Homo sapiens: one gene and its partner. The protein of the gene in region 1 purifies or fractionates together with the protein of each later gene. This does not show direct contact. Each region holds a gene or a part of one and is shown on either strand. Other genes may lie near its edges.

What was found. Proteins that work in one complex are often made in the same cells at the same time.
Region 2: the proteins of CD82 (region 1) and CD46 purify together in Homo sapiens (affinity purification with western blotting, with the first as the bait; one study listed by BioGRID). This does not show direct contact.

What each region holds. Positions count from the first base shown.
Region 1 is NC_000011.10:44,606,638-44,611,726, reverse strand, and holds part of CD82 (CD82 antigen), read right to left. Parts: intron 1-5,089. UniProt on the Homo sapiens protein: Structural component of specialized membrane microdomains known as tetraspanin-enriched microdomains (TERMs), which act as platforms for receptor clustering and signaling.
Region 2 is NC_000001.11:207,782,453-207,787,541, reverse strand, and holds part of CD46 (membrane cofactor protein isoform 3 precursor), read right to left. Parts: intron 4,251-5,089; coding exon 4,212-4,250; intron 2,472-4,211; coding exon 2,436-2,471; intron 1,924-2,435; coding exon 1,860-1,923; intron 1-1,859. UniProt on the Homo sapiens protein: Acts as a cofactor for complement factor I, a serine protease which protects autologous cells against complement-mediated injury by cleaving C3b and C4b deposited on host tissue.

The DNA.
Region 1 (5,089 bases):
TGGGAGTGCAGGGAGGTCACCCTGGCAACCAGGTAGCTACTGAGACAAAAAGGACAGGGAGGTAGCAGGAGAAGACATTCATGAGCTCCCTCCATCCCCCCAGGGACCGCTCCATTGTTTCTGCCTGCCCTGCAGAAACCCACTCCTTGGATGTAACCACCCTTCTATTTCTCCATGGAGCTGAGGAGGCCCCACTCCCTCGATGCCAGAAGCAGGCAAAAGACCTGGGCTGCCACTCAGTGCCATCCACATCACAGGCACGGCGAGTGGTTCAGAGATGGGCTTGAGACCCATGCTCACATACCCGGCCCTCTTTCCATCAATGTGGTAGGATGAGGACCTGGGCTACCCTCAGGCTCCACTGGGGACAGCCTGCCCGAGAAGGGAGCCAACAGAGGAGGGTAGGGCTGAAGGGTGAATAGGGACAGCAGCAGCCTTTGGGATCCAGCTGAGCCTTCTGCTGGCTCTGGCTACTTTCAGTTGAGTCACTGTCACATGCCATAAAGAGTCCTGCCCAGGGCCAGCTGCATAATTTACACCTAGTGCAAAGCAAAAATGCAGGGCCCCTTGTTTAAAAATTATTAAGAATTTCAGCTGGGCGTGGTGGCTCACACGTGTAATCCCAACACTTTGGGAGGCCGAAATGGGCAGATCACTTGAGGTCAGGAGTTCGAGTTCAGTCTGGCCAACATGGTGAAACCCCATCTCTACTAAAAACACAAAAATTAGCTGGGCCTGGTGGTGTGTGCCTGTAGTCCCAGCTACTTGGGAGGCTGAGGCAGGAGGATCACCTGAGCCCAGAAAGTGGAGGTTGCAGTGGGCCGAGATCATCCCACTGCACTCCAGCCTGGGCAACAGAGCAAGACTCTATCTCAAAAAGAAAAGAAAAAAAAAAGAATTTCAATACAGCAACAGCAGATTATCCTGTGTGACTGCATAGGTTGAATGCCGAGGAAGCCAGCCCTGTCTTCCCTGTCTCCCTCCTCCCCATTTCTCAGAAGAGAAAAATGAGGCTCAGAGTTGGAGCAACTTCCCAAGATCACATAGATAGAAAGCAGCAGAGACATGACCAGACCTTGATCTGTGCAGCTCCAGGGACCCGGGATCTTAGCCTCGGCAAGCTGCCCAGGGCCTCCCCATGACCCTGCTGTCCTCTGCATGGCTCTACTCACGTCCCACCCAAATGCTGAGCTTTGACTTCTCTTTTAGTGTGAATTTTCACAGAGTCAGAGTTAGGAGAGACCTTTGCGTCCAGCAAATCATCCAAATGTAAGAGTCATGCTTTTTTAGGCTCTGCTTAAATGCTCCCTGCGATGGGGAAGTCAGTACCTCACACAATAGCATGTTGCGGAGTTGAGAGGCTCTGATACAATTTAAGTTCTGCTCAAATGACTTCTACCCACTTGTATTAGTTCACATCCTCCTCCTCTCTCAGCTACCCAAGTCCCAGCTAGGACCACAGGAACAAATCAAATCCCTCTCTCGAAGGACACATGTCATCCAGATACTTGAGACTAGACTACATCTCCAGGGTAACTTTTCGGGCTCCTGTGCCCGCCCCTTGGGGTGCTGTGCAGACCTCTTGCCATGCTCTTTAAGGTGTGAAATAGCCCCTTATAATAAGGTATAAATGCATGAATTGGACCCACATCTTCCTGTCCTCTCCAGGTTTCCCACATGAGATGTTGGCAAATGCTTTGCTAGAATACAGATACACCAGCTCAGAGGCTGCATCCCAGTACCCTGATAGGAAATGAGGGCGCTTCCTGCATCTTTTCTGCAAGTCCAGCTGCAATCCACGTAATTAGCTACCCCAGAATGCAGAGCCAGTGACCAGCGTGTGCTTCAGAGATTCTAGCCCAAGTGTCTTTCCATAATCCCTTTCCAGAGGGGTAGCCTGGACTCCTCCATTCCCTTCTCAACAGGGGAGAGAAAGGTCACCTCTCCCTGTCCCAGGCTCCAGCTGCTCTTCCTCCCTCTGCCCCATCGCAAGAGAACCCCAAGCCAGAGAATCAGGAAGTTCTAATTCAGCAAGCAGACAGTTCACAGAGAACCACACTGTCCCCTAGGAACCCGTCTCGCCACCTGTGTCTCACACATGAGGGTATGTGCGCACCAACAATTTGGGGCTTTCAGGGTGAGAGCAAGGAGGACAAGAAGGAAGTCACAGTTCCCCTGACCAACATCTCTGGGGAGTTGTCTGGCCAGCCACTGCCACTGTCACAGCCCCCACCTCTGGCTCCCAGCCAGGCCAAGTGAGCCCCTTCCCCTCCAATGTCTTCTGCTTGAGCGTGACAGCACTCAGAGCCTCAGGGGCCTCCCTGGCACAGGTATGGCCTGCCAAGTGCACCCAGCTCAGCACCCACACACCACAGGAAAGGGCAAACTGCATTCACTTCCTTCTCACTCCTCCCACCTCCACTCTCTAGAGAGAACAAGTCAGAATCCCTGACTGCCTGCACTGGGCATGGCCCAAGAGCTCGCCTGTGGATCAGAGAGTCTGGGTAACTTATCCGAAGCCACACAGCAATCAGCGGCAGAGCCCACACTAAAACACAGGGCCCCTGAATCCCAGGGCTGGGCTCTGCTCACCAGAGGCTGGATAAACAAGCAGATGAGGATCTTAGCACCGTGCCCAGATCCCCATTCCCGCAGCCCTTGCTCTGCTGACAACGAGGGCAGCAGGAACAGCTGCCACCTATTGAGCCCTTACCAGGCCTTCATGAAGTGAATAATGGCGGCAATAATAATAAACACTGGCAATGATGCCAGCAACATCAGCCTCCGGCTGAGTGCCGCACGACGCCCTTCCCGTTTGTTAGTGCTCTTCATCTCTGAAGTGCTGCAAGGCAGCCCCTGGGGGCTCCGGCTCGAGACAGGATCAGATTTTAGAAAGGGCCTGGAGGGACAGATCACACCCACTAGTGGGGGCTGGGGCAGCAGCCTGCAGTGAGTCTCATTTCTATTTCCCTAGGGACACCCGAATGGGGCAGGCAAAGGCCATACATAGCCTTGCTTCTGTTCAGGTTCAATTTTGCCACCAAATTAGTTGCAAATGCTACTTTTGGTTTTTAAAGTGTTTCTTTGGATTTCAGAATTGCAGAGAAGGGACAGTGGGCCTATATTGTTACTAGTTTGACAAATGTGGAAACTGAGGCACAGGGAGGCTGAGTAGCATGCCCAGAATGTCAGAGCAGTGGTTCCACAGTCAAGACCCTTGGACACCATTCTGCATTTTCACAGAAGTGTCACAGTCTGTGTTCACTTCAACCTGAGTGGTAGAGCAGGGAGAGGCAGATTTATTCTCAATTTATAGAAGCAGAACCCAAGGCTCCAGAGGTGACAGGCCATGCCAAGGTCCCCAACCTCCCCATCGCTGCCCTGAGAAGAGTGGCTGCGGGTGACAGAGGCAGGAAGGACAGAGGGCAGCCCTGGAGACCACAGCAGGGTCACTCCCACCCACCTGCACGGGAGCCCTATCTCCTTTCAAAAGGCCTTTCTTTTCCTTAGGTTCAAACAAGTCCCACCCCCACGCTGAGCCTTGTCTGCCAGAATAAACACATCAAGAGTATGTTTAGTCTTCCACTGAGATTTATGATGCGTTGCGAAAGAAAAAAATATATTGTTCATTCCAATTCGGGCGATACAGTGGCACCAGAACTTCTTCAGCAAAGCCAGAAAATTTCCCCCTGCCTTCCAGAAAAGATGGTGGTGGACTAAGGTGAGGCAGGCTGGGACTAGGGGGTGTGGACTCTGAAGGGGAAGACAGGGGCAGGGGGTGCAATGCACAGAGCTTGGCTGGGGTCGAGAAACCCAAATCTCCAAACAAGTCCTGTTCTGGGGCTGATAGGACACCTCTGAGGCTAAGCTCCTCATTATCAGCCAAGCAGAGTTACCCAGCCGGCGGGAGGGCAGCGTGGTGGATAGGGAGGCATGGGCCTTGGACTCCAAGGCATCAGGATGGAAATCCCCACTCTGATGCATCCAAGCTGTGTGTGTCAGTGGCTGAAAGTCACTTTGCTTTCCTGGGCCTCAGTTTCTTCAAATGGAAAATGTTTGTAAATTTGAACATGTATTGCAGCTCACTTTTCTAGCTCAGCTCCTGGCATGTGGTTGGTGCCAACCTGGTGGGCCATATTTATTACTGTGAGATGGTGAATCACATAGGGTGGACTGCCCAAGATCCCTGCAGAGGCGACCAGCTTCTGAGTCATAGAAACCGGCTCACTGGGGCCTGGTTCTAATCCACCCTGATTATATCACTAACTAGGTCCTAAAGAAGCTCAGTGCCATAGGACAGAAATGAAGACCTGACCCCATGACCATTTTTCTGGGAAAGGAATTTCCCTCCCTTAACTGCTGGCTTCCTGTCTCACAGCCAAACAAGCTGCTTTTCATCTACAAAATCCACTATTTTCCACTTTTGCCTTGACTGCCAGGAAGCTCAGTGCCCAAGTTAGCCCTTAGCTACCAAGAGTATCTTGTCTTGTGAAGTTCCATTAAGTTCTAAGTTCTATTAAATGTTATTTGTTGATGTTGATGTTGGTATAGTGTTTTCTCAGTTTCCTTCCAAGAGGGATCTCAGGCAACTTGACCTTCAAGTGGTGAAGGGCAGGAGCCTATCTGGCTGCCGGCTCTGCCACCCTCCCTGGTGGACAAGAACTGGTGGCACTGGAAGCAGGGACCCTAAGGGTCTGCTAGGCCACAGGCCATGTGCAGCAGGGTCTGGGGACGGGTGAACTCAGGACTCGGAGTCAGGGAGCCTAGGCTGTCCTTACTCCTTCATCTGCAGGACGGGGATTCTCCCACGACCTTGAGAGGGCCTAGTGAGGATCTGCGAGAGGAGGAGTGTAACGTGGTCAACACTGTACTTGGTATATGCTGTGCATGGACTCAACTGGAGGGATGGTGGGTGTTAGAGTCACTGTTATCTATGTTGTTATTGCTCTTCATCTCAGAGCATCTGCTTCTCCATCTGTCAACATAAAACCCTGCAGAGCCATTGTGAGGACAAGACGCTGTATGGAAAGTTTCTAGAAGATCCCACGTGCACACAGTAGGTGCTTCTTACGTGATAACTGTGACTCAC
Region 2 (5,089 bases), on another chromosome or scaffold:
AAAATTTTAATAATGGCAACTGTCAGTTGGACCCTATGCTGTAAAATATGGGCTTTAAAAAAAAATCACTGGACAAATTAATTTTGGAATCTCAGTTCACTACTGCTATTGAACCTTTCATTTGGGAGTGTAACAGTCAGATAACTGTTGAGCTTTAAAAGACCCATTAAGGCCGGGCGCGGTGGCTCATGCCTGTAATCCTAGCACCTTGGGAGGCCGAGGTGGGCGGATTACCTGAGGTCAGGAGTTCAAGACCAGCCTGACCAACATGGTGAAACCCCATCTCTAGTACAGGTACAACAAATTAGCCGGTGGTGGTGGTGCACGACTGTAATCCCAGCTACTCGTGAGGCTGAGGCAGAGAATCCCTTGAACCCAGGAGGCCAAGGTTGCAGCGAGCCAAGATTGCGCCATTGCACTCCAGCCTGGGTGACAGAGCAAGACTCCATCACAAAAAAGCAAAAAACAACAACAGAAAAACCATTAACTGCTAGCTAGAGAGAGTTTGATTAATACTTGTTAATGAACCTTTAAAAATTCTGATGCAGTGATATTTTAAACAAAGAAGGAAAATAAGCAGAATGCGACTTTGTTTTGTTTTCTTTAGAACTTGTTTCTACGCAAACCTTATGGATTTGTAAAAATATTCCATTGATAATATTTTGTACTCACGTTGTAGATATGTAACTTTTAGAATATACAACTGATAGATAAATCAAATATGCATATCGTGTTCCATTAATACAAGATTTAAGATTCAAGTGAAGGGATTATGGGTATTTCAAAAGATAACCAAGTAATATGAAAAAAGTTTGAGTTCCTTATGAGTAAAGCTTGTACTTTTATGACTTAGCCCAAACCTGATGATCAGTATAAAAGGAATATATATCATAAAACCATGAGTACCAAAAGTCTTAAAATTATTAGGTTTGATTTCAAAGCTATTTCTAAAACTATAGGGGAAAACAGTTTTTAAAAATCAGTAAAAATGAATGTATATTATCTTTCAGAAATTTCAAAGCACCTAATCTTAGTCTGTGTTCCAGGATTCATTCTAAGTCTTTTGTTAAACTGTAAGCTCTTTAACTAAAATTTGAGTTTGATGTTTTAAAACCCTATTTTCTTTAGAAGATATGTACTTGTACATTTTTCTTCTATTCTAAACCCACTCACTTTTTACATTTTTATATATTAAAAGACACAGTTAATTGAGGTACCTTATAGATCTAACCCCTCTCAGCAATTTTAACTTTAACCCTATCAGTTTTACTGCAATCTGGTAAATTCAGAGAACATAAGAGGGAAATCGGATAGTGTTGTTTTGAATCCCCCAGTTTAACATGTATAAATAACAACTTTAAATGAAAAGACACCAAATTGGGTATTTAAATGATATGCCTACATAGCTTCTTGCAACTAGCTAAGCTATATAGACAAGTGGAAACTTTCATTATAAAAATTCCAGTGAATACAACTGTCAAAGTCTCCACAGTGAAATACTTTAAATTTAATTTTGGCCATTAGTGCAATTTTGGAAATAGGGAATAGGGTAGAGAAGGCCTCATAGTGAGTGGTCCATGATTTGCTAAATAACTTAAACCTCAAATCCAAAAGAAATTTTTCTTAAAGTCATAATAGCTGTAGGAACTCTGCACAGATGTTTTTATGTTGCAGTGATGTTAGAAGTAGCTGAAAATATTTTTAGCAAAGAAATGCAATTGGTAGGACAAACTAATGCAGGCATTTTTTTAAAAAAAAAAAAAAGATAGCATGCAATACAGATTACAAACTGAAGCTGCACAAAAGCATGTTAAGTATAAGAAGGACCAAGAAGTTAAAAGAAACATGCTTTAATTTACCCTTTCTTCTTCCTCCTTTGAAGATATCTGTACGGGACAACACAAATTACTGCAACTCCAACAACTATAAGAAACCAGGAAACAAATGACATATAATTCTGAAAACTAATCACCAAGATTCAACATCTAGCAGAAGAAATAAATGTTGGTTACATTTCAGTGGTCAAATGTTATTTAAGCACCTACACATTTATATTCCATCCAGACTCTTTGCTATCTAAATCCAACTCCCCATAATCACTTACACAGTCCATAGTAAGTCAGAGAAAAGTCCTTGCTTAATTTAGAAAACTATCAAAAGCACATTTGGGAAGCCAACTAATATTACTGATCATCTTGAGAAAATATGTATTACTTAGGCTTTGTTACTAAGTAGATATACAGAATATAACAGAGTATAAAATCACTAACACAAGGTAGGTAGTTAAGTATATCAAATAAAAAGTCAGGTTTTCCTAAATCGGTTTAACCAATTTACAAGCTGAAAAAACTATAGAAACTGAAAAACTATTTTTAAAATGCATGTCTTCACAATAATTTTTTGACTTAAGTGGTGTCAAAATTTGTGATACTTACCTATGGCAATAACAATCACAGCAATGACCCAAACATCTGAGAAAGAAAACAGTTCCAAGATGTTGAACACATGGATCTCCAGATAGCATTTATTTCAATCAGATCATCTAAACACTTGATATGGTTTGGCTGTGTCCCCACCCAAATCTCATCTTGAATCGCAATTCCCATAATCCCCACGTGTTGTGGGAGGGACCCCATGAGAGGTAATTGAATCATGGAGGCAGTTTCCCCCATGCTATTCTCATGATAGTAAGTTCTCACGAGATCTGATGGTTTTATAAGCGGCTTCCTCCTTCACTTGGTTCTCATACTTCTCCTTCCTGCCATCATGTGAAGAAGAATGTGTTTGCTTCCCCTTCCTCCATGATTATAAGTTTCCTGGGGCCTCCTCAGCCCTGCAGAACTGAGTCAGTTAAATCTCTTTCCTTTATAAATTACCCGGTCTCAGACTGTTCCTTACAACAGCATTGAGAATGGACTAATACAAGACTACAGAGGAAAAAAAAATTTTTTATATAGTTTTAGCATGACTGCTAGGGCATCCAGGTCATTTTGATCATAGAACCCTTCTAACCAGTTTCCAGGTTAAGGGTTCCACTTGTGAAACTCTTAATGGGAACCTCATTTTTCACTGTTTTTCTCTATAGCTACCACATCAGGTTATTTAGCGGTAAAGTTATTAGAGTAATTAGAATTCACTATAGTAAAGGAAAATGATTTTTGAAAAGTATTATCCCATGAGAGTTGGTTTAGTTCAACAGTCATTCTGTCATTTCTTATTTTGGTAGACATTTAATTTGTATTTTTTCCTCCAAAAGTGATCTGTAGAGTGAGTCATAAATAAATTTCTATTATTCTATTGCCCAGATGGTATTTACAAAGTCTTCACAAACAATACTTTATCTTATCAATCCCCTTCCCATCCTCTCTACTTCCATACTCTGCCCTGCCCCAAAATTAAGACATAGTCCTAAATACCAATAGGATTCCCATAATAAATGAAACACCAGGGCACATGGATAAAAAATATACAGAGAAATTTGAGAATACATTTTTGACTATCTAGAGAACACAAAATAATCCTATAAAATCTTAATTTTTAGAACTGTTTCTGTCCCTAGTACCTTTGCTTCTAAACTGCCATTACTTTTATTAAATTGCTATAAGTCAAAGCATAAAGTGCTATGTTCAACTCTGCTCTTCTCATCTCATAAACAGTTATCAAGTGTTTAACAGTTTAAGATGGCAACAGATTTACTTGGACCACAGATTTTGGAGGTAAGGCAAATACTAAAAAACAAGCCTAAGGTGCATTATATAAAATGATTAACCATTACCAAACTAGTCTAAGAAATGAAAGGTAATAGATTTTTGTTTTTACTTATTAAGAAATCTTTATTTTTCATTGGCCTATATCACAACTGCACTTCATCTTTTTTTTTAACATGCATTGTGTAAACTGCGTAAGCCTACATCAAGTGTGTTAAATCAGCGTGTTACAGAAAAAATAAACCCAACTTAGATTGCTTTAAGGTTCATGTATATAAGATATGAATAGAAAGAAAATTTATCGACAGATTACCATCACAAAATAACAATATAATGTGGAAAGAAAATTGTGTTTTATATATTTTAACCTACATACAAACACAGCATTTAAGAAAGTTATCTTACCCTACCAAGGATCCTATGTTTGGGCACCTCATAAAAACTAATTACCTACACGTTTCTACACATACTACCACTTATATTTGTCATGATAGCTATACCAACCCAAACTGTCAAGTATTCCTTCCTCAGGTTTAGGATATCCTAGGAAAAAAGAAGAAATATAGATTAAATTAATAAAAGAAGGAAAGAATTAAATATAAAGCTTAAAATCCTTTAAACTCATAGGGTGATTTTTTTTCACCTTTGTAGAAAATCCCTTAAAATATAATTTTCCTTATAAACTATATTAATGTTTCTCAAAGTAGTATCATAAAAATTTATAAACTTACATTTAATGTCATAATCTTTCTTCTTCCTCCCCACTCACATTTTCTGTGACAACATTCTGTGGTTCAACATGCAAATTTATCTGTACTATTTTCTCAAAATTAGTCTATAAATCCAATGTGATTCTAATTAAAATTAAAAGATAGAGGGATTAGCCGGGCACAGTGGCTCACGCCTGTAATCCCAGCACTTTGGGAGGCCGAGGCAGGCGGATCACGAGGTCAGGAGTTCGAGACCATCCTGGCCAACATGGTGACACCCCGTCTCTACTAAAAAAAAAAAAAACAAAAATTAGCTGGGTGTGGTAGTGCGTGCCTGTAATCCCAGCTACTTGGGAGGCTGAGGCAGGAGAATCGCTTGAACCCGGGAGGCGGAGGTTGCAGTGAGCCGAGACACAGCCACTGCACTCCAGTCTGGCAACACAGCGAGACTCTGTCTCAAAAAAAAAAAAAAAAAAAAAAAAAAGAGGGATTAATAAAAATAAATGCTTTAGAGTTGACCTGAAATGGAAGGAAACTTCCTCAACATAATAAAGGCCATATATTAAAAACCCACAGCTAACATCATACTCAATGTTAAATGAATGAAGGCTTTTTCCCTAAGATCAGGAACAAGACAGGGTGTCCATGTTTGCCACTTCTATCTGACATAGG